3 separate regions of the Homo sapiens genome follow, and regions 2 and 3 are each linked to region 1. Evidence: fine-mapped QTL for protein levels in blood plasma. A gene starts in region 1. Each other region holds a variant in brackets. All regions are shown on one strand. Distances are between the middles of the regions.

Region 1 (10,419 bases):
GTCCTAATCCTTTCCCCTCTAGGCTCTTCAGTGCCAGTCCACCCCCTCGCCTGTCAGGGAGGCCCCAGCAGAGCCCACCTGCACGGGAGATAAATCATTATCCCCTAAGGGAGTTCAGTACCTCCCTCCTTGGCCTCTCCCGCTGGCTTTGAAGGCCAGACACACTCAAGTGGTTAAGCTGCCTGTGAGAAGTGTTTACATGAGGCTGATGGATCCCACCTGGTGCTGTGGCCTGAGCCAGAGGAGATGCCCCCAGCTACCCCCAAATGCCCGTCAGCTGCCAACCCCTGCACGCCCCTCCAGTACTCCCTGCCTGATTTACCAAAGCCTTTCTATCCTCCCCAGCCCCCACTACACAATTCTCTCACCCACAGATTATAGATGTCCAGTTGAGTTTATCAAACTGGGGTCTTCTGGCCCAAGTCTGTAGTCTCAGAGGCTGGCTGTACAGCATGATAGTCACGGGCATAAACTTCAGAGTCAGACTGCCTGGATTTGAATATTGGTTCTGCTACTTATTAGCTATGTTACCTTGCTTAGCTGGTCTGAGCCTGTTTTCTTATCTGCATGAAGGTTATTGTTGTTTATAACTTAAATGAGTTAATACACAAAACTGCTTAGAATGGTGCTGGCACACAGTGATGACTCAATAATATTTGCTGTATTTGTTATGACCAAAGCTTCACTTTGTGTCTACATTCTAATAATCATTCAAAAGGCAATATGAACATGTTCTGTATCATCTGGATACTAACCTTAATACTGAGTACTGTTATGCAATTTCCATATTTGCATTTATCTTTATGGTTGATTGCCTCGACACCAAAGCGATCACTCAGAGTGATAGGATTTGCCTTTAATTGCAGCATTTCTCAAACTAAGGTCTGAGAATCCCTGGTAGATCTGTTCCATGAGTCCTTACAGTTGACAAACACTGCATTAGACAAACTTGGTGTTAACCCTGGATCTGAAAGACTTTGGACTCACTGCGTGATCAATATCCCTGGGGTTTTTTGGGGCACAAAATGTCCCCTATGCATCTCTGCATTCCTTGTGCCAACCTGTCATGGTGCCTGGCAATTGAGGGTGAGTGCTCGGCAAATGTTAGCTCCCTTCTTTTTCCTCCCTCTCCTCTCCCTCTAAATTCCTTCTCAATCCTCCCAGGTCCTAGTTTTCAGCTGACCCCTGCCACACTCACCCAGTCCTTGCCAGCGGTGATCTTCTGGCCCACTCCCACCTGAATCACCAGGAAACCACAATCTCAGCTGGAAAATCGTAAGGAGGATCCAGATGTAAATTTCACTGAAGCAAGTGACACTGGCCTCCCCCACCTCTGGGATGGGAAGAGTTGCAAGCACTTTTTGAAAATGTACATATAGAATCAACCCTGTAAAGGGGCTAAGAGTTCCTCTATACCAGGGGGTACAAATGACATATATGATTGAAGCTGGATGTGGAGGGGGTAAACTGGAGGGTAAATGCCCCATCTAAAGGGAGCATATGCCGTTCAGCTCTGACTGATTGTTGAAAGATCTTCTGATTTTCTAAAAGAGGAGTGGAAAATCCAGGATCTTACATGAAATCTGATTTGAAATGCTGGACAGGTCTCGGACTAGGAACCCTGCAGCACCAAGCCTCAGAGGGCCACAGGTCCCTGCCTCAGTGGCTCCACATTCCTGCATCTAGTCCCTGACCCCATATGCGCACACACAGGCATGCACTCTTGCAGACATGGACAGCATGGGCTAGGGCTGAGAGAGGAGATATGAGCTGATGACTCCCTTTTAAGCAGGCTGCTTCATTTCTTTTAGAGTCCTCTGTCTGATTTCCTTTGAGCCATGGGCTATATGGCACTGGCAGTTTATGTTTTTGAGGCTCACTCTACACAGATAGAATGGGGACTGCTGGCAGTGCCTCAGGTTATTGGTGGGGGTAAGAAAGGGCATTTCTCTCTGCCACTGTGGGGGTGAGGGATTCACACTTGTTAGATGCCTCCCTCCACCTGCCATGTGCCAGGTCTTCGTTTACTCCTCACAATGGAAGGAGGAAGGTAGAATTATTTCCATTTTACAGGGGAAGAGACCTGGCCCTGAATGGTTAAGTGTCCCAGGGGTTACAGACCCAGTTAGGGACCTGCCCTCAGGTTTGCTACCCAGGACTGGGTGTGGGGAGGGCGGGGCAACCCGCTGGGAGCTGCTGAGTGTGGGGCACAACCCAGCTTGGGGAGTGGACCTGCAAAGTGGGGACGGGGCTGGTGGCAGAGGCAGAGCTGAGAAGGGAGACCAAAGCGAGAGGCCACAAGGGCCTCGGAGGGGAGTATACAGGTCGGGGAGGGGGACACAGCTGGAGGTGGAGCTGAGGGCAGAAACTCAGCCCCGGGAGGGGGCTGGAATCACTTTCACCTTCTTGCCTGCAATACCGTCAGAATAAAGTGGTACTCCATCAGGGGCCCGATACAGACCCAAAAATGTAAACTATCTAGATAATTTCGCATTAGCCCTCCCCGGGCCGGGCTACAGGCTGGAGAGTTTTGGCCGCCCAGCAGGCTGGCAGGCGGGGGCAGAAGAATTGCGGGCGGGGGGCGGGACAAAGTATGTGCCTGTCCGACCTGTCGGGATTAGCCTGTCTGTCGGAGCCAAGCCAGGTGCTGGGGCCGTGCCCCCCCTCCAAAAGCAAGGGCAGCGGAGGATGGCTTCTTCACCCCTCCATCACCCCCGCAAGCGCGCACATTCTTCTTCCCTCCCCCACCATCCCGCAGAGGCCCCAACAGGTGCCGAGGGAGACGCGGACCTGAGGTTCCCCTGGCTGGCCCTCAAGAGCCAAGAGAGCTGTCCACGTCTGAGAGGCCAGTTTCACAAGAAAACTCCTGCCCCCAAGCACACTCACTCCAAGTCTGTCCCGGCCCTCCAGGGAGTCCCGGGCGAACATAGCCCCCACCTCTCCCCAACTAAGCGATACCATCGGTTCCTGAGCGCCAGACCCCGAGGGCCAGGGAGCCGCGCCACTTCGCTGCGCACCGGGGGCCGCAGCGCATGCCGCCTGCCACGTCGAACCCAGGCCCAGGCTGCGGACTGGGGTGGGGGTCACCAGAGACCGTGGGACTTGGGGGAATCCGAGCCAATGAGCCCCAGGATCAAGAACTTCTGGATTGGAGGCGGGGTATAAACAGGGCTGGTGGACTTGGGGAATTCAGGACTGCGAGTGAGGATGATCACCCGGGGCTGCGGGATGGAGGGGAGTTCGAGGGGAAGAGGCTGCCTGCTGGATTGAGGGCCGACGGGGGCGGCAGACTTGCAGGAAGGGTGCAGGAGGTGCCCTGTCCTGATCGCCGACCGGAGAGCGATCAGACTCCCCTTCCTTTCTGTCTCCCCCCACGCACCCAGCTAGAACCAGCCCCGACGGGAGGGCCCGCCGCGCCCCAGCTCCCGGGGAAGGGGGCGCTGGGGAGAAGGATGGGGCAGCTACGAGGGGACTCACCTTCGTGCTGCCAGTCGCGACGGGGGCAGGCCCGGGAGGGGCGAGGGCGCGGCCCGCTCACCCGCCCGCTGCGGGACTGTCCTGGGCGCCCGGCTCGCCTGCGCTCCGCCCGCCCGTTCCCAAGTTGCTCAATCTGCGGACGGCTCACGCCCTCGGGGCCAGCGCCCCACCCGGCGCATCGGTCCTCCGGGGCGGCTCGGAGCTGCCCTCGTTCTCCGCAGCACCCGAGCGGATGCCCTACTCTGGCCGGTCGCTCCGGGCTCTCTGCCCTGCGCTGGTGCTCTCCGTCGCGCCTCCGCTCGGCCGGAGCTCCCAGCCCGGAGAGGGGCCAGTCCTCTGCGAGCACCAGGGAGGGAATCCCCCCCTTCGCAGTCCCCCCCGCGAGCCGGCCCCCCTTCCAGGGATCCGCAAGAAAAAATGGACTGGAGCGCCGGCCCGGGAGTCCACACGTCCTTGCCCGAAGCTGGCGCTCTGCGCTCCGAGCGCGGGGCTGGCGGAGGGACAAGTCCCCAGGACCCTGGGGCAGACCTTCTGCTTTTGTCCCCTGCCCCTCCCCGCGCCCCGGGGATTCCACGCAGCCAGAGAACCCGCAACAACTCCGCTCATCTTGGCGTCAGAACGCGGCCGGAGACCCTCATGAAAACCCCAGTTTCCCCATCAGGAACCTGGAAAGTGACAAGGAACAGGCTCCACAGAGCCTGGTGGTCTTGACCACACCCTCTCCCCCTTCAGGGTCAAATCTTCTGTGCATCTTCCCAGTTCAGAAGAAATACCAAGGCTATCAGATCCTGGGCACCGAGGTGAGGACACCTCCAGAGGCAGCTGGTAGGTGAGAGTGAGGGAGATCATACAATAACACTTAGATTCATGTCTGGCTCTATCACTTACCAGCTGTGTGGTCATGCCTAGGTTACTGAACCTCTCTGAATCGCAAGGCTTCATCTGTTCTGAGGGTTCAATGAAATGAAGGCTACAAACTTCTGGTTAATGGTGGGAACCCCATACATGTTTGTGGAATGAGTCTTGAACGGCTACAGACACCTGCAGTGACCCAGATGATGTTGAAGTCAAGCCCGAAGAAGGGAGGGAAGGAGACTCACTTCTTAGAGTGACAAACAGCTGTTCTCCAGCTTCACTTCAGATTGGGAAAGGAAAATGGGCTAAAACTGTAGTTAGTGGGAGTTAAGCTAGAGCAGAAAAGATGTACTGATTGTGTGTGTGTATAGGGGGGGTGAGTAATCAAGACAGGCTGTGGAATCTCCCTCTTAGGAGAGAAGGGGGGAGCCCTGACTATTGAGTTAAGGGCACAGGGTCGTTTACAATGACAGGAGGATGGATGTAATGACCCCTAGAGTGTCCCAATGGCCAGGGAACAGGGATGGTGGATAGCCAGAGAAAGTGGAGCAGTTGGGTCCGAAATGCCCAGTGTCTGGGTTCATTCAGCCAGAGCATTGCCAAGTTTGCAGGAGGCAAACAGTCATTTCCGAGTTGGTCCAGGGGCCCCCTCCAACCTCCAACCCCCACTCAAGTCCCTCCTCTCTCACCTCTGCCCTGAGCCTTCCCTGCGTCTAACCGGCCCTTGGCTATGCTCTGTGTCTAATCAAACAGCCCCAAATGCCGAAAACTCAATGTTTATTTTATTTTATTTTTTTACACACTTGCATAACTCTCTGACAAGCCACGCCAGGCATTGGGCTTTTTGTTTGGTTTTATTTTGTTGCATTTAGGAAAAAAAAGAGGGAGAGAGAGAGAAAAGAGAAGAAATAACACAAACCACACAGCCCTAGAAGCTGTCCTAGGCCAGGCAGTGGGCTCGGGTTTCCTGCCTGAGGAAAAGTCTGTGGAAGTTGGGGGGCCTCGTTACTAGGCTCAGGAATGAGTGAGAAAGGGAAGAAAGCCACCTGGGTGACAGAAGATAACGAATTAGAACCATGTGACAATAATGGGTGAATAAGAAAGAATGTTTCTTGTGCACCTAATGTATGCCAAGCACTGTGTTTTGCACATATATTCTGTTACCTAATTTCGCAACTATTGTAGTTCCTTTCTTTTTTCCTTTTTTCCCATAAATGTAAATTCTGATCCTCAGAGACGCCAAGTCAATTGCTCAGAGACACACAGCCTGCAAGTGGCCAGCCCAGTTCAGGTTATGCCAAATGAGTTGTTTCCCTGGGAAAGCTGTGTTGCTCTAAATTTGCATATGCTGTTCATTCTGCTTAGAAATGTCTTTTTCTCGGCCAGGCGCAGTGGCTCACGCCTGTAATCCCAGCACTTTGGGAGGCTGAGGCAGTCGGATCACGAGGTCAGGAGATCGAGACCATCCTGGCTAACACGGTGAAACCCCGTCTCTACTAAAATTGCAAAAAATTAGCTGGGTGTGGTGGCGGGTGCCTGTAGTCCCAGCTATCGGGGAGGCTGAGGCAGGAGAATGGCATGAACCCGGGAGGCAGAGCTTGCAGCGAGCCGAGATCACGCCACTGCACTCTAGCCTGGGCAACAGAGCAAGACTCCGTCTCAAAAAAAGAAATGTCTTTTTCTCTAATCCTTTTTGTGTCATCCTTCAAAAGGCCTGTATGAAGTTTAGCCTGACCACCTCGAAAGTCAGCCTCCAAACCTTGTGTAGACCTGTACACCACCCATCATTGGCCAATGATGGTCTCTTCCACTGCAGTGAGTTCCTAAGGAACTGGGAGGATGTTCACAGACAAAAGCAGAACTCTGTCCGCACGGAAGAAGGGCTTTTGGATTGGAAACTACTGGCATCTGTGATCATTACTGTTACTCTAGAAAAAGCTGACTTTGTTACTGTCAATTTATAGGCTCCCCTGAAAACTCTAGTCTTCATAACCCTGCTGTTCTCTGAAATCTTTCATTCATTCATTCATTCTTTCTATTTTTTTATTTTTTTATTTTTTAGAAGAAGTCTTGCTCGGTTGCCCAGGCTGGAGTACAGTGATGCGATCTCGGCTCACTGCAACCTCAGCCTCCCAGGTTCAAGCGATTCTCCTGCCTCAGCCTCCCAAGTAGCTGAGATTACAGGCACGCCACCACGCCCAGCTAATTTTTTTTGTATTTTTAGTAGAGACTGGGTTTCACCATGTTGGTCAGGCTAGTCTCGAACTCCTGACCTCAAATGATCTGCCTGCCTCAGCCTCCCAGAATGTTAGGATTACAGGCGTAAGCCACTGCCCTGGCTAGATCTTGTCATCCTTTCTTTCATTGAGGCAATATAGCATAACAGCTAAGTGCATGGACACTAGTATCGGCCGAGTTTGAAGCCCATCTCTACCACTGACTAGCTTAATGTCCTTGGGCAAGTCACTTCACCTCCCTAAGCCTCAGTTTCCTCATCTGTTAAATACATATAGTAACAGTATTAACCCACCACAGTTCTTACAGGGATGACATAAGATAATGCATTTAAAGAGCTTGGCACAATGTTAGGAATTATAGTAAGTACTTAGTACATGCTGGCTCTTCTTATTAGCTATAATTTGGTCAGTGCCTTTATTAGATATCAACCAAGCACTATTGTATCCCAGGCACAGGGCTGGAAATGGAGGATAGAGAAATGAGTATCACACTGTCTTCCTAAGGAACTCCTGGTTTAGTGAGGAAGGCCGACTCAAGAGCCTGGTGAAAGGGTAAATGAGGTAGAGTGGTGGGACAAAATAAGGGGTGACTGTGACTCCTTGAGGGAATCTGAGAAGGCTTCTCCAGGGAAGAAATGCTTGAAAGATTTATTGGCATTTTCTAGGCACATGTGATCAAAAGGCATTCCAGGCAGAGGGAATGGCAGGTGCAAAGGCCCGGAGGCCTGCTGCATCGTGGTGCCCTTAGTGCTATAAGTAGTTCTGCTTCGTGGGGATTTCGGATGAGAGAGGTGAGGCGGGGAAGAGGGCAGCAGATGGGGTGCTTCCAAAAGGACCTTATGGTACCAGGCCAAAGAGCAGGAACTTTACCTTGAGGGCAAGGGCAGCCCCTGAGTGTTGATGAGGCAGAAAGGCAGGACCAGAGTTGTGCTTTAGGAGTGTCTTGCAGCTCTGGTGAAGGCTGAATTTGAAGAGGCGAGACTGAAGGGAGTGAGGAGCCCCAGTGAGCAATAATAAAGTAGATCATTCCCAAGAACACTGCCCAGCTCTTCCTTGTTCCTTTCTCTCCACTTTCCTCCCAGGGGGTCTGCTGTGTCCTCTGGAAGCCCCATACCAGCAGAAACACACTTCTCAGATTCTCTACCTTGTTGTGAGTGAGTTCAGGCTCCTTTAACACACACCAGGGACGCCATCCCCTTTGCCCAACAAAGTCTGGCAATACCACTCATTCTCCTGCACGAGGGTGTGGCATCTGCCTCATTCCACACCGCCCCCCTGCCCTCCCTTTTGTAACTGTTCCTCCTGTTCTACCTCCCTGCTCTCTTCACCTGAGTTATTTCCCCCATGCCCTGCTGTGCTTTCTTTGCTCACACAGGACCCTGGCATCTGTCTCGAGGTCCTCTTCTCTGTGGCAGACTCAAGCATCACGTTGGGGACCTCGTTCTCTATGTCAGTGCTACGCCCAACACCTCTGGGACCTCCTGGACCAGGTCGATACTCTTGTCCACTCCACTTTGGCCTCCCATTCACATGGCCACCCCCTCTTGACCTCACCCAAATTACTCCATCCCTGAAATCATAGGCTTCAAGATCCTCAGACCCCCCCACTCTAACCTTCTGCTCCCAATCTCTCATGCCCTTCCTTCTAATTCAGATTCTTGGCGTTTCACCTGCCCGATAACGATTTCTGCACTGGCCTTGCCTCAACATCTCAACTGCCCCACAAACCCCCTGCCAGTTCCTGCTGAGCTCCTCTGGACAGTCCCCCAGCTACCTGAGACAGTGCCACTGCAAATCCACAGCCAGCCTCCACTGGGGCTTCAGCAAGCCCACGGATGACCGTGCAGACTTCCCCTTCCAGCCTCTCCCAGCCTCTCACTCCGTCCCAGCCCCCATCATCAAGCAGCTAAGATGGCCAAGAGTGGCCCCTTCAACTCCCTGCTCCTAAAACTAAACTCTTGGGCCCTGCACAGAACCTCTTTCTCCCCAGTTTTTCTCCTTGGAAACAGCGATGAAACTGATAAAGCAAGAAACTGGGAGTTGTTTTGCATTCTTCTCTCTCACCTCCCACATCCACTCTACTGGCAAATTCTGTTGGATCTGCCCCCAGAAACTTTCCTGCTTTAAGCCAATTTTGCCGCTTACCTGGACAATTGTTAGTGTCCCTTCCAGGTTGCCCCACTCCCACTCTGTCCCCCACCAACACAGGCTTCACACAGTAGCCAGAGTAAATTAACAATTATAAAGCAGGTCCCATCATTTACTCCCCTGCTTAAACCTTCCAGTGATTTTCCATCACACTTAGAACCAAATTCAAACACCATCCCTTATAAGGCTACATCCCTCCAGCTTCATACATCGCCTCTCTCTTGGCTTCAGCCCTACCAGGCTTCTTTCAGTTCTTTGGTAATTCCAGACTCTTTCTCATCTCAGGGCCTTTGCACAGGTTCTCTGCCATCTTGCCCTTCCCATAGCTCTTCATATGGGGCATTTCTTTTCTTCCTTTTTTTTTTTTGGATTAAAAATTTTTTTTAATAGAGGCGGGGGTCTCACTATATTGCCCAGGCTGATCTCGAACTCCTGGGCTCAAGCAATCCTCTCATCTTGGCCTCCCAAAGTGCTGGGATTATAGGTGTGAGCCACTGTGCCTAGCCTCTTTTCTTCCTTCGAATCTCCACTTAAAAATTATTCTGTTAGAAGGGCCTTCCCTGACCTCTCCATCTGAGTAGCTCCCCCATTATTTCATATCACAGCTTCCTTTCTGTTGTAGTGTATGTTGTATTTGTTTGTTGGTTTTATTTTGGTTTTAGAGACAGGGTCTCACTCTGTTACTGAGGCTGGAGTGCAGCGGCACAATCATAGCTCATTCTTCCACCTCAGCCTCCCAAGTAGCTGAGACTACAGGTACGTGTCACAATGCCCAAAATGTAAAAAAAAAAATTTTACATTTTTTTTTTTTTGTAAAGATGGTGTCTTACTGTGTTGCTCAGGCTGGTCTTGAACTCCTGGCCTCAAGACCAATCCCACCTTGGCACTGGGATTACAGGCATGAGCCACCATGCCTGGCCCTATTTTGCGTTTTGTAGCCATTTATTTGCATGCTTCTGTACTAGACTCCAGTTCCCAATCCTTCCATGTGAAAGAGCCCCCTTCCTTGCCACAGTTCTCACTCTCCCTGCATGATCCATGGCTAAGGTCACCAAAAACCTCCTTATCACCGCATTCTGTGGTTCCTTTGTCTTCCTCCTTCTCTATCCCTCTGCAATTCTTGACACCTCCACCTTCTTGGAATGCTTCTCTCCACTGTCCTGGTTCCTGTTTCCTTGTATATCTGTCCACCTCCCCTCCTAGCCCTTAACTGTGGACAAACCCAGGGTGATTCCCCGCCATCTGCCTTTCTTGTCAACCATGAACTAATATAGCTAAAAAGCACAATGCCCAATAGTAAGAAAAGTAAGTGTCAAGTTGGCTAGGCCATGGGAAAAAAACATTATGCTTTTTGTTTCTCTGCAAGTATTTTTTCAATGGGATTAATACTGAAATCAGTAGACTTTGAGTAAAGCAGATTACCTTGCATAATGTGGGTGGGCCTTAACCAATCAGATGAAGGCCATAAGAGGAAAAGACTGAACTCCCCTGAGCAAGAAGAAATTCTGCCTTTGGACTTGAACTGCAACACCAGCTCTTCCCTGGGTCTCCAACCTGCCAACCTATCCCTGCAGATTTTGGACTTGCCAGCCTTTACACTCATGCGAGCCAATTCCTTAAAATTTAATCTCTCTTTCTCATTGGCTCTGTTTCTCTGGAGAACCCTGACTAATAGAGGAGGTGCTAAATAAATCTTAACTTA
Region 2 (9,189 bases), 24 kb before region 1:
GAAAACACAACCCCATCACCCAAAATATTGAAATGGAAAACAAATCTACACTCTGGAGATTTGATCTGAAACATACCAGAGCTGGAACTGTGTACGGTGGCCAGAAATGTGTTAGTCTGGGCAAATCTGTGGCCCCGTAGAGGAAAAAGCTAACATTTTCCAAATAACAATGTGGGCACGTAACAACTACATACAATCATGTGCTGTTGTTGCCTAAACCTGGGAATAGGGTTAGGCAGCTCCATATCTTGACATAGATTCCCTCTCTCCAGCACTCAGTCATCCTAAAAAGCACAAGGTGTGATGTCTGGACCAACTCTGGGCTGCTCTCAGCCCTTATGGTCTCTGCCTCAGGTGGGCTGCTTCTAGGGTTGTGAGCAGGTTTTGAAACACACACCCCTCTCCAGCTAAAGACAGGACAGAGTGAGACAGGAGTAGGTCCAGGTGGGGCTAATTGTTTTTTAGGAATGTACTGGGATCGCATCTGAAAGCACCCAGTGTATCAGTATCAGATGATCTTGCCAGTAATTCTGCAGATGTAGAAGCTCAAGTGTGGGGTGTACATCAGTGGATTCAGGACTTCCTGAAACCCATACTGTGTTCCTTATCTTAGCTGCCTAGGGCCTCAAGAGCAGCTTTAGGTGGCTCAAAGATGCGATGCAGAGAAGCGGGATGGCTCAGAGCATCACAGAGTTGATGGCAGGAGATACAGGAGGATCCAGCTCATTCTTTGATGTTGCTAAGATTCTGGATTTCTGCTTTGATGTTGGTGTAGAGGAAAGCTTATGACAGTGCTTCTCAAATTGTTAAATATCTGCACAAATTTACTAAGGGATCTTCTTACAAGGCAGAATCAGATTCTTTAGGTCTGGGTAAGGCCAGAGATTCTGTATTTTTAGCAGCTTCCAGATGAGGCCAAGATCGCTGGTCCATGGCCACACTTTGAGGAGCAAGAGCCTAAGGGTCAGGGACAAATCAGAGACAAAGACAGCCAAGACATACTGGGACTGAGGATTGATGCCCCAAAGTGAGAAACAGAAGGACAAAGAGAATCAATGGTGCACAAAAATAGAGTCAGAGGCTGAAGTGGGAACAGAGAAGGTCAGGGTGACAAAAAGAGGGACCGAGAAGACAGAGTTAGAGACGCAGAGAGGGGCAAAGGCAGAGGGAACACAGAGATGGAAGATGGATGGCACAGAGAGACTTGCAAAAACACAGCCAGGGTCAAGGAGAGGAGACAAGGTAAAGAGTGAGTGAAGAGGGGCTGGAGCTGGCTGTGGGCGGTCTGTGACTGGCAGTGAAGATCACAGGTGTAGACGGGACAAGACCTGCAGGTGCACAGACATGAAATCCCCCACCTTCCTCACCTCCCAGGCTTCCCGCACCTGCATCACTCTCTCCTTGCTCTTGCAGAGCCATCCCTCCCCATGGAACCTTCCACTACTGATTTCCCCTTCTCTTGCCTGTGTACTCAACTGCTTTCTCTTAAGTGCACCCCTCCCAGAAGGTTTTAAATACCATCAAGTCTTTCCCATCTAAAGAAAAAAGGTCTCTCTTGACTCATATTTCTTTCTAGCTCCTGTCCTATTTCTCTTCCTCTTTTTCACAGCTAAGGAATTGTCTGTTTCCATCACCCTCCCCAAACACTGCTGCTAAGCTTCTGTTGGCACACGTTGCTGAGTCCAATGGTCACTTTCCAGTCCTCTTTTGCTTGATCTCTCCCTCCTTCTTGCTAGCTTCTGGGACCTGATATTCCCCTGGGTTTCCTCTTGCCTGCTCCTTCTTTAACTCACCGTTTGTGATCTGATCTTTATATTTAGAGGGACTTTATATTAGAGCTGGGCCCAGACTCCTCTCTTCAACCAGTGCTGTCTTTTCAGTTGAGCTCTTCCAAACCCACAGCCTCAATTGCCTTCTGTACACCAGTTTACATTCCATCCCAAACTCCGCCTGTACAACTAAACTTGTGTTTATGTCTAAGCAATGTCTGCTCACCATCTTTACCAGGATGTCTCAGAGGTACTACAAACTCAACGTGGTCGAAAGCAGATTTATGTTCTTCCTTCTTCTCCCAAACTGGTCTTCCTCGCAGGTTTCCCACCTCAGAACACAGCACTGTCATCTGTCTGGGTGTTTGAGTCAGAAAAAGAGATTTCATCCTTGATAACTCCTCCCCGTCTCTCCCCTCTTCCACATCCAATGCATCACCAAATTCTGTCAACTTTATGCCCCAAATACCTTTTGATTTTGCTCACTTCTCTCCATTTCCACTGCCACCACCCTAGTTCAAATCTCCAACATCTCTCACCTAGATGACAGCAACAGCCTCCTAAGCAACCCCTCCCTAATCTGTCTTTCAAGCTACAGACAAAATGATCTTTGCAAAATGCAAATCTGCTTGTTTTGGCCTACTGCTTAAAACCCTTCAGTAGCCTCCTTTGGCTCTGAGAATAAAGGGCCAACTCCAGGCAATCTTTCTAGAATCATCTGAACTCATTTGCCCTCGAGACCTTCCAGCTATACTGGCTTTCTTTCAGTTCCTTGGCCAAACTATTTTCTGTCACAGGACAATTGCATATGCATGTCTGTAGAACTGTGCTGTCCAACATGGTAGCCGCTCACCACATGTGGTTATTGAGCACTTGAAATATGGCTAGTGCAACTGAAGAACTGAATTGCTAATGTTATTTAATTTTAATTGGCTAAATTTAAAATTTAAAAACATACATCATTCAGTTACAGAAAAACTGGTAAGTATTCTCAAAACAACTTGGGTATGTGTATCTTCTTTTTCAACTTTAGTTTTTATGCCATGTAATTACAGATCAGGTATTTCTGCTGAAAATTTAGCATCCAAATTAAGATATGCTGTGAGTGTAAAAATACACATGGAACATTGAACACTTAGTTTTAAAAAAGTAAAAGATCTCACTAATAATTTTTTACCTTGATTGCATGTTAAAAAGATAATACTTTGGGGCCAGATGCAGTGGCTCATGCCTATAATCCCAGCACTTTGGGAAGCCGAGGCAAGAGGATCGCTTCAGCCTAGGGGTTCAAGACCAGACTGGGCAGCATAGTGAGACCTCATCTCTATGAGGAAAAAAAAAAGATAATACTTTGCATATATATGGTTAAATAACAGATGTAATTAAAATTAATTTCACCTCATTCCTTTTTATACTGTGGCTACTAGAAAAACATTTTCTTTTTTTATTACTTAATTTTGTTTTGCACACCAGGCTGGTCTCAAACTCCTGGGCTCAAGTGATCCTCCTGTCTTTGCCTCCCAAAGTGTTGGGATTACAGGCGTGAGCCACCCTGCCTGGCATTTTTTTTTTTTTTTTTTTTTTTGAGACAGTCTCACTCTTTTGCCCAGGCTGGAGTGCAGTGGTGTGATCTCGGCTCACTGCAGCCTCCACCTCCCGGGTTCAAGTGATTCTCCTGCCTCAGCCTCCGAGTAGCTGGGATTACAGGTGCACACCACCACACCCGGCTAATTTTTGTATTTTTAGTAGAGACGGGGTTTCACCACGTTGGTCAGGCTGGTCTTGAACTCCTGACCTCGTGATCTGCCCACCTCAGCCTCCCAAAGTGCTAGGGTTACAGGCATGAGCCACCGCGCCCGGCCCAAAAATGTTAAATTAAATATGTGGCTCACATATTTCTACTGGACAGCAGCAGTCTGTCTTAAATCCTTCTACCCATCCTTCAGAGTTAGGCTCAAATATCACATCCTCTGAGACACCTCCCTGAGAGAAAGTATTTTATTTTTATTCTGCTTTATTCACTTTCATAGCTAAGCATAGATGCCAGTGGTCACCTGCCCTTGGCACCATCCTTTTGTAGTTATATATGTGTTTGTACAATTCCTTGGTGCATGCCTATTTTCTTCCCCACCAACCTCTAAGCTCCACAAGAGCAAGGCCCGTGTTTGGCTCCTCCCTGGAAACCTAGCACCTAGTCCAGAGCCTGGCACACACTTCAGAATGCCACAAGGAGTTATTCCATCCACTGCCCTGCCTTTGGGCAGGATTGTCCCCAACCATCACTGGAAGCCTACGCACTCCCTTCCCCTGGCAGTGCCACTAGCCCTTCAGTATATAGATTCTGCCTCTCCCAGATGGAAAGTCCTCCTTTATAGCTGACCAGAATCCCTCCTGCTGCAAGATGGCCGGGGCCCTTTCTCCCGTCCTTTAAGGGGAATTACAGCAGCACTTCTCAAATTTGGGTAACATGCCAATCATCAGGAATCTTAAAATTTAGACTCTGGCTCACCAGGTCTGGAATGAGACCTGAGATTCTCATTCCTAACAAGCTGCCCTGTGACAACACTGCTGCCGGGCCATGCTCTGAGTAACAAGGATATAGACAGCCTGTTTACCACCGTCAGAGCAGCCCCTAAGTTTTCTTCCTTGTCTGCATGACCCTCTACTGAGCAGGCTATTTGGGGTCTCTTGAAATTCCCTGTCCCTTCTTGCTCCTACGCATACCTCGCCAAACCCTCACACCCTGCAAAGGAATGTGGTGCCTGTGTCTACTGCTGTCGTTGATTTTTTTGTTTTAATTTGAAATAAACCTTTAAGCAGTTTTCAAAGTCAGGTTAACCCTGATATGTATCCTGGAAGGGTAACAATACTCTCCAACGATAAAGTCACACAGCTGGGAGTGCTGAACAGGATGGGAAGAAGGTTTCTTCCCAGGTCACCAGCAGTCCTCAAGCTTGGCTCCCATCTGCCACAGTGGCTGGTCCGATCCCAGCAGCTTCTCCAGAAGGCTCCCCTCTGCAGTTTGGTCTCAGATGCTGGGAAGTGTTGTCTCTGACATGTCCACTGGGAGCTCTGGAAACCAAGTGTGTACTGCTGGGCCCGAGGGATGGAAGTGTCTTCTGGTGGCCTCAGGTGTGTGTGTGTGTGTGTGTGTATGTGTGTGTGTGGTGTCTGTGTCTGCGTGTGTACATGAACACACATGTGCAAGTATGTATGGTTGTATATGTGGACAGGGGTTTGAGCGTGTGTGTCTTGTGTCTATGTATGCATGGATGGATTGGAGTGTGTGTGTATGCTTTGCCCCCGACGTTCCAGTTCAGGAAAGCTTGAATCACGCAGAGTAGCACTGAACTCTTTCTGCATGGGCCTGGAGGCTGGACAGTGTCCCTAGGCAGGCCCTGCAGATGTGAGTGGCCCCACTGTCCCTTGCTGCTGCTGCTGTTGCTGCCCCTTGCGTCTTCGAGAGCCAGCACCCGCCTCCTTGCTCTCCTTCCTGGCCAGGTTCCTGTTGGCATTCTCCCGCCGGCCCTGGCCTCCCTTCCTCCTCTTCTGCCCTGAAACAACCAAACAGCAGGAAGAATCAACAAAGGATGTGCAGGGAGGCCCTGGGCATGGCCACAGGCCCTAGGAGGGGAGTGTGAGGAAGCCGGAAGGGGAGGCAGGGAGGAGGCTGGAGATGCTGCCTCTAGGTAGTTGGGTCATCGTGACCTCCTCTGACAGCAGCCACTTCAGAGGACCCCGAGGCTTGAGTACTGGGAGGCAGCCCAAGAGCCCTTTCACTCCCCAACCCTCAAGGCACACAAGACATCATCCTCTTCCTCATGGATTCCTCAGACCTTGGATCCCAATGGACCAAGAGCACTTCCCAGGTATTCAGTGCAACTCTCAGAACAGGCAGGACTGCCCCCATCCCCTATCCGCCACCAGCCACCTCTGGGGCCAGGCAAGAGCAGCAGCCAACCCCTTGCCAACTGCAGGCTGTGTGACTTTGGTGGAATCACTACACCCCTCTGGGTCTTAGTGCCCCTTTTCACCCACCCATCCTGCCTCCGAGGGGCCTTCTAGTATGAACATCCACTAGCTCAGAAGAAATGGGGGAACCGGAAGGATGTTGACCACAGAAGCTTCCAGCTTCCACTATGCAGAGTTCTGAGGCCCTGTTCTCTGCCAGGACATGGCATCTGGATTGGACAGCATGAGGTCTTGAGTTGCGGGTGCCCCATCTGGCCTTGCCCTGAAGCTTCTTCCTGAGCCGTGGGCAGGAAGCAGAGGTGGCAGGACCTGTCATGGCTGGTGCCTGAGCCCTGACCCCAGGGAGGCAGAGGCTGCAGCTCACCCTCAGGACACGGCACTCTCCTCACTGTGCACCTCCGGGTCTCCTTGGTGTCAGAGCAGGCAGCATGGTCCCCCACAGGGGCATGTAGCACCCTGCGTGTCCGCTCCTCGGAGCCCCTCCGGAAACCACAGAGCTGCTGCT[T/G]CTTGGAGCAGGGCCCCCACGGAGACCACTCGCTCATTTCACATTGCGCTGGCAGGAAGAGAAGGGAAGGGAGAGAAGGACAAGGAGGAGGGGATCATGTCTCCTCCTCTGGCCCAGAATAGCCCAGGGGAGCATCTCCCACTTTCCTTCTGCCTGGACCTGAGGCTGCAGGTATCTTTAGTCCAGAGGGCAGAAAAGTCCTTGGAGACTCAGAAAGGAGTGGTAGGGTAAGCTCTCCCTGCACAGTGCCCCAGCCCACCCGCTCTCTTGCCAGACCCTTACCCGGCCCCTCCTTCTGGGGTCCTGGACCCTCTGCCCACAGTGCCTGCCATGGCTTACCAGGACTACTGCACTCCATGGTGCCATTGGCAGCTGAGGAGCCCTCGGGACAAGCTGGATAGCAGCGGCCCTTGTGCAGGTACAAGCCCTCCTTACACTTGGTGCAGAAGTTATGGCTGAAGCAGGCCTCACAGTGCTCGATCTTGCATTCTGAGGAGAGGACAGATTGGGGGCTTCTGGCCCAGCCTGGTGAGAATGTTTCCCCTCATCCCCAGCCCCAATACCCTCCCTTCTGTCCACACCCACCTACATGGAGGGCAGGACCCTGGCCTAGAGCTGCAGGTACTGCAGAGGAATCTTGGGAGGAAAGGGAAAGGAAGGGCAGTGGCAGGCCAGGGAAGAAGAAGCTGAAGCGGTTGCTCCTGAAGGCTGGCTGGGACTCTTGCCACCATCAGCCAACTCGATCATGAACCCAGTCTCAGTCCCTGCAGCCCAAGGTGAGGCTCAAGAGAGCAGTTTCAGAGGCGGAGGGTGGGGCCGTCTGGGCCTGGTGGGGGTGGGACAGGAGAGTTTCAGCATCTCACAGCATCCAGAGGGCCACCCTAAACAGAGTTGAACTGAGGGACAGAATGGCCCCCCAGAGAGTGGCTGCATGATCTCTTCTTCCCTCATTGCTGGGCATCTGCAATGTCCCAAACTGTGGTTCTCCTCCTGCCTGGCAGAAAGAATCAGCATGGAGGAGGGGTAAGCCATCCCAGGGCAAATGCCTCTGCCTCTGCAAGGCTGAGTTCCAGCAACAACCTTGGTAGGACTCCTGGGTCCCTCCCTGATTCCCTGCTGCCAGTTCTCTCCTCTGGGGGAATGGGGGCAGGGTGGGTCTTCCAGGGCTTGGCTGGAAGCAGGCAGGGTCTTTCACAATCTCTCCTTCCCAGAGTGCAGGCGGGGCTGACTTCCTCCCAGGCTCTGCCACCTGAAGCCCATGCTGCCAGTTTCCTAGGAGCTGGTGTAGCCAGGAGCTCCCGACTTTAAGGACCATGAGGACCAAGAGGGTAGCTCCCAGGGTCCCACCTCTGTCCTCACAAACTCCCACCATCCTCCAGGCTTATCTCAGCCTCACCTCTCTCCTTCCCTCCTTCCTTCCCTCCCTGGTGCTCTGATTCCTGGGTTTGGTTGCCAGTCAAATAAGAACAAAAATAAGAACAATAGCAGCTACCATTCATTGAGTGCCAGACACTAAGGGCTTTACATGCATGTCTCACAACAACCCTAGGGGGTAAAAACAAAGATGAGGCATTGAGGGGTTGAGATGTGCTCAAGGTCACACAATGAAGAAGTAGCAGAGTTGAGCTCAGAACCAACTCTGAGCTGGACTGGTCCAGTCTAGTCTTGGACCAGTCATTTACCCTCCGGGCCTGAATGTTGTCAGCCCTGAAAAGGGCACCATCAATTGTGTCCTGTCTCCCTCCCAGTGTTGTTGTGAGGCTCAACTGATATGAGACCTGCAAATGCATTCTAAATGGCAAGGCACTGAACAAGTGGTGGGGGCACTGGCATTGTCCCCCGAGTGTGTTCACACGTGTCCCCCAGCACATCACAGCTGCATCTACAGAGAAGGGATGGAGATATGGTAGCGTGTGCCTTGGAGCATGTGGAGCTGTAGCTGTTGTGGAAATGAGGAGTCAGAAGACCAGGGAGAGAAGAGAGTGGAAGAGCAGGCTGCCTGGGCTTGGATTCCCCTGCAGCCCATGTGGAGCTAGCAGTGGTTTTTAAGCAGAAGTGTGATGGGATAGGTTGTATGTCTCAGAAATGTGATGGGATAGGGATAGGTTCTGTGTCTCAGAAGTGTGATGAGATAGGTTGTGTGTCTCAGAAGTGTGATGGGGTAGGGTGTGTGTCTCAGAAGCGTCTTTCTGGCTGAAGTGCAGAAGATGGGTTTCAGGGAACCAGATGAAGGCTGGAGGACAGATGAACAGGCTATTGCAATGATCCCGGAGCAAGGTGCTGGGAGCCTGGGGAGGACAGTGGCAGTGTGGACATACAGGAGATGACAGGCAGGCTTTGGTGATTGGATGGATGGGGTGGGAGAGGTTGGCACTCAGGGCTGTGGCTTGGGTGACAGGTTGGGACATGGAGGGTGACCTCTGGGAATACAGGTAGGGGCAGGTGCGAAGGGAGGAGACAGGGTTCTGATATTTACACACCAAGGTGGAAGTGTGCGGCTGGATACTTGAATCGGAGCCTCATCTCCTCTCCTCAGAGCCCCCTCTGCTCCTCTTGCCAGCCACCAATGGTTCAAAGCACTCTCCCCCAGTCCAGAGCTTCTAATGCCCCCTGCCCCCGACAGCCCTGCCCACACTCACTGATGCACTTGTTCATGTCGGGGTTGCGGGCGTCGAAGTATCCAGGTGGGCAGGACGGCAAGCAGACGCCCACCTGGCGGATGTCGTTCCTCTCCAGCAGGATGAACAGCTTGGGTGAGCACTTGAGGCAGCCGTTGACTTCAGAGCAGAGCTCACAGCCTTTGGCACAGGCCTGGCTCCCCTCGGCACTGACTGCAAAGGTGGAGCAGGCATGAGAAGGCGGCTGTGGAGAGAACCTCACCTATCCAGATTCTGACAAGGATGGGAAGTGAATAGATCGATGTTTCCTTCCACAGAAGGAATA
Region 3 (8,463 bases), 36 kb before region 1:
AGAAGCTTCTTCCCAGGCCAGTGGCACAAGCTTAAGTTTGTCTTCTGAATTTGTCTTCTAAGTCCTTCCAAAAGTTGCCGACCACACAGCAGCCAAATATCCGTTAGGAGGTGTCATTCTCTTCCTTACAACTCCAGTGGCTTATCATCACTCTTAGAATGAGAGGTAGGGGAAGGGAGAAGGGAGAAACAGACAGAGACAGAGATTGATTCAAACTTTTTGCCATCCCTACAGGATTCTGTGATCTGGCCCCTGCCTGCCTATTTATCTAATCTCATGTGTACGTCCCTCCCTCTGGTTATTCTGACATTTACACTGGATATTCTCTCTGCCTGAATCACTCTTTCCCAGAATCTTTGCATAGCTGTCATTCAATCCTAAGCTCAAATATCACCTATTGGTAGGCCTGCAAGAATTAGCAAATAGAAATACAGGACACCAAATTAAATTAGAATTTCAGAGAAAAAAAATGAATACTTTTCTTTAGTACACCTCCAACAGTGCCTGGAAAATACTTAGACTAAAAAAGTATTCATCGTTTGCCTGAAATTCAAATGTAACTGTACGTTCTGTATTTTATCTGGTGACCCTTCCTGCTGTGAGAACTCATTCCTGTCTAATTTGTCTAAATCAGCCACCTTTCACCCTTTCACAGTTATTCTGTTACAGTATTCTGTTTTATTTATTTCATGGCATTTATCACTAGTTGAATTTTTTTTACAAGTTTATTGGCTGCTTCCCCCAAACTAGAATGTAAGATTCTTAAAAGCAGGGACCTTGTTAATTTGTTCACTGCTGTGTCTTTAAGACTTGAATAGCATCTGAAACAAAGGACTCAAAAAATATTCATTAAGTGAAAGAATGAGTAGATGGGAATGTCTCTTGCCTTGAGGATGAAGGAAGGCATTAAGACCCAGTGATTTCTGTTTCTACTAGCCAGAATAAAGTGTCTAGATGCCAGTGTTTGAACCAAGAAGCCCTCTCTCTTTTTACAATTTATTTTTTGTTTGTTTGTTTTTGTTTTTGTTTTTTGAGACGGAGTCTCGCTCTTGTTGCCCAGGCTGGAGTGCAGTGGCCCGGTCTCGGTTCACTGCAACCTCCACCTCCCGGGTTCAAGCAATTCTCCTGCCTCAGCCTCCCAAGTAGCTGAGATTACAGG[C/T]GCATGGTATCATGCCCAGCTAATTTTTGTATTTTTAGTAGAGACGGGCTTTCACCACATTGGCCAGGCTGGTCTCAAACTCCTGACCTCAGGTGATCCACCTGCCTCAGCCTCCCAAAGTGCTGGGATTACAAGTGTGAGCCACCTCGCCTGGTCCCTCTCTCTTTTTTGGTACCTCAAATTGTCAGAAAATGGCCATCTTTGTACCCTCTGGATAGGCCAAAGAAGAGATGGTTAGGCAAGAGGAAGGGTGGATTCATGCAGTGTAGCTCATTTCATAAAAACAAACAATTTGTTATAAAGTGAGGTATTCTAATTGAGCAGGGGATGATTGAGTCTTTATTTCTCTGAGTTTGAAACAAACCCCAAAACATTCTCTTTAGAGCAAAAGCAGGCCATGTCATAGGCTAGAGCTGGAAATACCTTCTGTCCCTCAAGCTTCGCTTTTATTGCCCCAAGGGCAAGTATCATGAGATTAAATGCAGCTCTGCTGGGAAGGCCCTGACTGTGACCTGTGTTAGGGAAGCTCTGAGAGCTATTTGGAAAAAACTTCATGATCAGTGAAGATGCCCCCTTCCACCCCACACTGTCCCTCTGATCCCCAAAACAAGGATACCATAGCCTCCTCCCAGAGAGAAGATTCAGTTAATGTGTTTCTGATGCCTCAAGTTGGTGCAAACCAGAATAAACACGGATGGCAAAAATCAGCCTATGAGCTCATTCAGGCTTTGATCAGAGACATAATTTCATTATGAAATTTTGAATCAGGCTGTTGTGAAGTCTTGCCAAGGAGTTTCATTTTCCCAGATGATATGGTGGGTTGTTTCTCTCCTGTTCTCATACTCTGCTTGCATTTATCTTACAAACTTTCCATCTATTTTTATAATCTGACCCATCAATCCTTTTACAACAATATTTGCCGATCTCGACAACCAACTTCAATTCTACCAGCAGATAAAAAGCCTGATCAAGGTAAGTCAAGCTTAAGTTACTGGTTTGATTTGCCTGCCCTGCTTGCCGCATTGTAATGCAGTGACTATTTTTCACTCTCTTTTCTGATGTCATGCCAACTAGCAGAGGCAAGATACACCTCCAGGTCTACAGTTCCTCAGCTTTAAAACAGATGCAATAGCTTAACTACTCTGAAAGACTGCAATAAGATCATATGAGTTACAGTATATGAAAGCATCGCAGACATGGTACACATCATGCAGATGGGATGCTTTCTATTTTTCTTCTTTTTTTTTTTTTTTTTTTTGAGATGGAGTCTTGCCCTTTCACCAGGCTGGAGTGCAGTGGCATGATCTCAGCTCACTGCAAACTCTGCCTCCTAGATTCAAGCTATTCTCATGCCTCAGCCTCCCAAGTAGCTGGGATTACAGGCACGCACCACCATGCCCAGCTAATTTTTGTGTTTTTAGTAGAGACGGGGTTTCGCCATGTTGGCCAGGCTGGTCTCAATTTCCTGACCTCGAGATCTTCCCGCCTCGGTCTCCCAAAGTGCTGGGATTACAGGCATGAGCCACTGCACCGGCCAGGGATGCTTTCTATTTTTCTCAAAATCCAAGGTGAGCTACTCATCCCCTCAAATGTTGCTCCTGGTAACCACAGGTTTGTGTGAATGAGAAGACCTTAATGGATGGAGACTGGCTGGAAATGCCATGTTCTGGACTGGTGTCTTCACAGGAAGCAGACAATCCTGACCTTACTTTTTTTTTTTTTTTTTTTTTTTTCAGATAGAGTCTTGCTCTGTCACCCAGGCTGGAGTGCAATGGCACGATCTCAGCTCACTGCAACCTCTGCCTCATCAGTTCAAGCAATTCTCCTGCCTCAGCCTCCCGAGTAGCTGGGATTGCAGGCACCCACCAGGACACCCAGCTAATTGTTGTATTTTCAGTAGAGATGGGGTTTCGCCATGTTGGCCAGGCTGGTCTTGAACTCATGACCTCAGGTGATCCACTTGCCTCAGTCTCCCAAAGTGCTGGGATTATAGGCATGAGCCAGTGTGCCGGGCCCTGACCTCACTTTTATCTTCATTCTGTAAAAAGTTTATCACTGGGGTCTAATGGGCAAATAGCAGCAGCTTCTAAAGCAACATTTTTTAAAGTGTGGTCTGAGAACCACAAGCATCAGAATCACTTGGGGGATCTGTTTTAAAATGCTGGGCATGGTGGCTCATGCCTGGAATCCCAGCACTTTGGGAAGCAGAGGCAGGTGGATCGCTTGAGCGCAGGAGTTCGAGATCAGCCTGGGTGACATGGTAAAACTTTGTTTCTACAAAACATACAAAAATTAGCCAGGCGTGGTGGCTCAAACCTGTAGTCCCAGGTACTTGGGAGGCTGAAGCTGGAGAATCTCTTGAGCCTGGGAAGTGGAGCCTGCAGTGAGATCGTGCCACTGCACTCCAGCCTGGGTGACAGAGTGAGATCCTGTCTCAAAAATAAAATAAAATAAAACAAAAATGCAGATTTCTGGGTTTTATCCCAGAGCTTCCAAAATCAGACCATCTTGGGGGTGGGGCCAAGAGAATCTACATTTTAGCAAGCTCCTCAAGTGATTCTTGTATATACAAAAGTGAAGTCTTTTCCAAGAGTCACTCGGAGGCTTTCTGACCTGCTGACCAGAAGGCAGCCCTGGAAGATCAAGCTTCTTTCCTACCTATCTTAAATCATCTTGTTCTTCTTAGCAGAGCCAGGGTGAGGAAGGCTGCTGCAGTGTCTAATGCACTCTGAAAATATATATCTTGGCTCTGCCCCAAATGCCTTGATATTTATGCTGCAGCCGGAGGGTCGTTATCCTTTGGCAATGCTCATTTGTAAGGCCATTAGCTCTTAATTAGTGCCGGCTTGTTGAGTTGTACTTCCCAGTTGAACTGCTAGCAGAAGCTGCTCTTTTGGGGCCTCTTGTGTCTCTCCTCTGGCAAGCCCATGAAGCATTGACCCGTGCCTGCTGAGGCCAAGAGTTGGGCCCCTGGAATGGCCGCTGCCCAATGTGAAACAGTCCTAGTCCCCAAATGCTAGGTTCTGGGACTCTGGAAGAACAGAGAAAGGCTCAGAATATACATCTTCAGGATTTTGTTGTTTTGTTTCACTGATAGAAAACAAAAAAGTGAGTCCTTGGTTATACAACCTCAACAGTTTTACAAGCAAATTCAAGTATCAGAAAAGTAAAGTTCGGCCGGGCGTGGTGGCTCATGCCTGTAATCTCAGCACTTTGGGAGGCCAAGGCAGGCAGATCATCTGAGGTCAGGAGTTCAAGATCGGCCTGGCCAACATGGTGAAACCCCATCTCTACTAAAAATACAAAAATTAACCGGGCGTGGTGGCACACGCCTGTAAACCCAGCTACTAGGGAGGCTGAGGCACAAGAATTGCTTGAGCTTGAGAGGCAGAGGTTGCAGTGAGTCAAGATTTACACCAGTGCACTCCAGCCTGGGCGACACAGTGAGACCCTGCCACAAAAAAAAAAAAAAAAAAAAAAAAAGGAAAAGAAAAGAAAAGTGTATTAACTTAGAGCTTCATAGGCCAAGTTACCCTCAGTTTTCAGTCTAGGGTGTCTGGGAAATTCTTGGACAAGGATATAGCAAACTAGTGGGCTTGCTACCTGTAAAAATGGCTAGGAGACTCACCTCTGGGAACCCCAAGAAACTTTTCTTCATGGTCACCACTTCTAAGTGGGAAAAACAGTCGTATTAGTCTTGGCATGCATCTCACTGCTGGGTAGGAGCTCTTCAAAAAGATCCCCAGATTAAGCTTTGGAAAAATAACTAGAAGCATTTCGCTCCTTCCTATCACCAAATCCCTTGTGGTCTTCGGCATATTCTGCTCAAGAAAATCTGAGAAGCACTTTTATGAGATGCTATTAATGGCCTCTAATTTTCAGCATGGTTTAGATAACTCAAGACTGCTGGCCGTGTCCTGAGAAGTGGATCCAGAACACACATTGATGTGGGAATTTAAAGTATAATTCCAAATTGTAGGTAATTGTTTAAGCTCTGAGGAGGCTGGAGGGCCTATATTAAGTCATCTCCCCAGGATCAGTGTGTTTCCTATTACACTCAATATCTATCTGTCCAGGGATCCTTTTGATTTTGAAGCCGTTAGACCAAATCTTTGTGTAATTCTTTACTCCCTTCTCTCCTGCCTACCTCCCTCCTTTTTCTTTAAGAAAACACTTTTTAAAAACTTTATCCAGGTCCCTTGGTTTGTTTCCAGTAGAATAATGTCATGTTAAAGAATCTGAAAAGTTAACTTCCCATCTAAAACCAACAGATCAGTGGAGCTCTGTCTGTCAGAAGTTCAGTCTTGCCCTAAGGGCATCCTCTGCCCAGCAAGACACTGAGATTTTCCTTGACCTCCTCCATCCCTCTTGCTCTTCTGTCTAGACTAGGAACAAAATCTTATTTCTAAAATAGAGATTCAGGCAAAGGTATGGAAGAAAGTCAGGGTGAATATCTTCTCAAGCAGCAGAGGAAGAACTAGTCAAAACCTTTAGCTATGTTTCCTTTTTTAGAGCCCCAGTTAGAAAAAGATAAGTCTATCACTCCCTCATCTTTGGGAAAAGCAATCCTTCCTACTCACTTTTTAACCCAGTTTGGAGGAATCTTCTAGATGTTTTTGTTTTGTTTTGTTTTGTTTTGTTTTGAGACAGAGTCTGGCTCTGTCACCCAGGCTGCAGTGCAGTGGCACAATCTCGGCTCACTGCAACCTCGGCCTCCCGGGTTCACGCCATTCTCCTGCCTCAGCCTCCCGAGTAGCTGGGACTACAGGCGCCCGCCACTACGCCTGGCTAATTTTTTGTATTTTTAGTAGAGACGGGGTTTCACCATGTTAGCCAGGATGGTCTCGATCTCCTGACCTCGTGATCTGCCCACCTCGGCCTCCCAAAGTGCTGGGATTACAGGCATGAGCCACCACGCCCTGCCAGATGGTTTTTTGTTGTTGTCATTTGTTTGTTTGTTTGTTTTGAGACGGAGTCTCACTCTGTCATCCAGGCTGGAGCACAGTAATGCGATCTTGGCTCACTGCAACCTCTGCCTCCCAGGTTCAAGCAATTCTCCTGCCTCAGCCTCCTGAGTAGCTGGGATTACAGGTGCCTGTCACCATGCCCAGCTGATTTTTGTATTTTCCGTAGTGACAGGGTTTCACCATGTTGGCCAAGCTGGTCTCAAACTCCTGACCTCAAATGATCCACCTACCTCAGCTTCCCAAAGTGCTGGGATTACAGGCATGAACCACTGCACCTAGCCCCTTCTAGATGCTTTAAAAGTCTATCTGAGAGACTTTAAAGTTGTCAGTTTTGCTTCTAGCTAGAGCTAGGGAAATCCCCAAGATGCCCAGTCACTGTGCCCAGGACCTGGGGACTCAGGTTTTGCTGTGTCCTCCCCACTCTCCTACGTCAAGAAAAGGCATGAACCAAACCAAGTAGCTTATCTCTGAGTGCAGGGGTAGGCAAATTACAGCCCACAGGCCAAATCCCACCAGTTGCTGTTTTTATGTGGCCCAAAAGCTAAGAATGGTCTTTATGTTATTAAATGACCGACCAAATTCAAAATAAGAATAGTATTTTGTAACATGTGAAAATTATATGAAATTCAAACTTCTGGGTTCATAAATAAAGTTTTATTGGTTCACAGCCACACTATTTGTTTACATATGGTCTATGGCTGATTTTGCACTACAAAGGCAGAGATGAGTAGCCACGACAGACCACATATGGCCTGTGAAGCCTAAAATATTTACTACCTGGCCCTTTACAGAAAACACTTGCCTACAACCCCCTGTGCTAGGGCACTGGTATGTGTTCTGATCATTGAAGAGACAGGGAATTGACCATTCAATGACTATTTATTTGCCATTGCTCTCTGAGAGTGAACATTGCCCATCCCACTATAGAGGTATATTTCATTTTTTCTGCCCTGGGGATTCAAACGAGGGTCCACTCCTCACCTGATGTAGCTGATGCTTTCATAGACCAGCAGGGGGCTCTCTGCAGAGGTTTAAAATTCACGGAGAGAGAGCCGGTGCTAGAGGGCAAAAGCAAGTCTCAGGGGAGCAGCACTGACCTGTCAGTCCCCTAACTGAGCTCCAGGACTTTTTTTTTTTTTTTCCTGAGGCCAAAGGAGAAGGGAGCTTCAGGCAGAAATCCAAAGGGCTCCTTTGTCCGCAGTCTTTGTGAAAGCAACTTTGGTGACCTTGAAGCAAAGCACAACAGAAAGTAGAGGAGATGGTCCACTTGCCCGGCATGGTTCTGGTGCACCGTGGTCTCTAGGGGCTACACCCAGGGTGGGCAGCTTCAACTGTGTTGGAGGCAGCCCCTGCAGTGGGGCATGGGGGCACACACTGGCAGGTGGTCTTGAGTAGCTTTGTGAGCAATGCATGCTGATGAGGGGCTCAAGAGGCAAGGCAGGGGTGGATGGATGTCCTTGCAGGCCCTATAGCGTTATTTGTAAGCACATATGATCCAACCCTCAGAATCCCCTCCTGCCAATAAATGAGACACTCACCAGGCTGCATATCATGGTACTAAGGTATGGAAAAGCACATGGAAAATGCAGGTTTTCAAATAGCTAAGTGGTAGCTGAGCCAGACTACCTGCGGTCCAATTCTGACCTCATTTATTTATTAGCTGTGTGTCCTTGGTCACATCCTTTTACCTCTTTGTGTCTCAGTTTCCTCATCTGTAAAATCGGCCTAATAATGGTATCCACCTCACAGGGCTGTGTTGAGGGTTAAATGAAGCAATGCAAGTAAAAGGCTTAGAATAGTGTAAGCACTGTGTCGATGTGTAGTACTGTAAGCATTATGTGTATGCGCATAGTGTAAGCACTATGAGAGTATTTCCAACTGTACCCACAGCCTCAAGAGACTTGGGAAAGAACAGGAATGCAATAATACATCCCACAGTCTCTGCTCTCAGGAGCTAACCTTAGGCTATGGGACACAGACATGGATGTCATAAAGGTGAAATAGTCCATAGAAACATACAGGAGGAGCAGCTACTGGGGAGGGGCCTCCTTCACAGAGGAAGGGTAATTCCATCTAGGTATGAAATATGAGTAGAAGGTCTACAGATGAAAGCAGGGAGAAACACATTTTAGGTGGAGGGAACAGCATAGACGAAGGCATGGGAACTTGAATGTGTATTTGTATTGGGCACAGTGAGTAATTCTGAGTAGAAGAGTAGATGGGGCAGGGGATGGGGGTGGCAGGAGATGGGCCTGGAAATCTGGGTCGTCATCAACAGTTGTGGCCAAATGACAGAAAGATCGAGATTGCATTGCTTTTGGCCTGGTGCTCCACTGA

Which allele goes with the higher level. Alleles are on the strand shown, and positions count from the first base shown. The strength of an association depends on the size of the effect and on how common the allele is.
As copies of G replace T in region 2, the plasma level of the protein whose gene starts at base 3,804 in region 1 goes up (moderate association).
With allele C in place of T in region 3, the plasma level of the protein whose gene starts at base 3,804 in region 1 is higher (moderate association).

What was found. PIP is the posterior inclusion probability: the model's chance that the variant is causal. Protein levels are from antibody-based Olink assays in UK Biobank. Linkage for the fine-mapping came from a reference panel and not from the study's own genotypes, which makes the PIPs less certain.
Region 2: its variant is fine-mapped to the plasma level of the RSPO1 protein (UK Biobank, PIP above 0.99). The variant lies in the coding sequence of RSPO1. If it changes the protein, the assay may bind it differently, which can mimic a change of level.
Region 3: its variant is fine-mapped to the plasma level of the RSPO1 protein (UK Biobank, PIP 0.94).

What each region holds. Positions count from the first base shown.
Region 1 is chr1:37,631,089-37,641,507 of GRCh38, forward strand. It overlaps RSPO1 (R-spondin 1), which reads right to left and starts at 3,804. Exons shown (of 7, transcript NM_001242908.2): 1 at 3,478-3,804; 2 at 1,199-1,265. RefSeq lists enhancers at 1-86, 2,095-2,622, 3,151-3,678, 3,679-4,205.
Region 2 is chr1:37,607,599-37,616,787 of GRCh38, forward strand. It overlaps RSPO1 (R-spondin 1), which reads right to left. Exons shown (of 7, transcript NM_001242908.2): 4 at 8,886-9,077; 5 at 6,586-6,735; 6 at 6,106-6,294; 7 at 3,752-5,323. The coding sequence ends at 5,157. Among named protein-coding and RNA genes, the nearest start is that of GNL2, 16 kb to the left of the region's middle. The variant T/G (reference allele first, on the strand shown) is at 6,247.
Region 3 is chr1:37,596,174-37,604,636 of GRCh38, forward strand. No RefSeq gene overlaps it. Among named protein-coding and RNA genes, the nearest start is that of GNL2, 4.5 kb to the left of the region's middle. RefSeq lists an enhancer at 7,055-7,349. The variant C/T (reference allele first, on the strand shown) is at 1,160.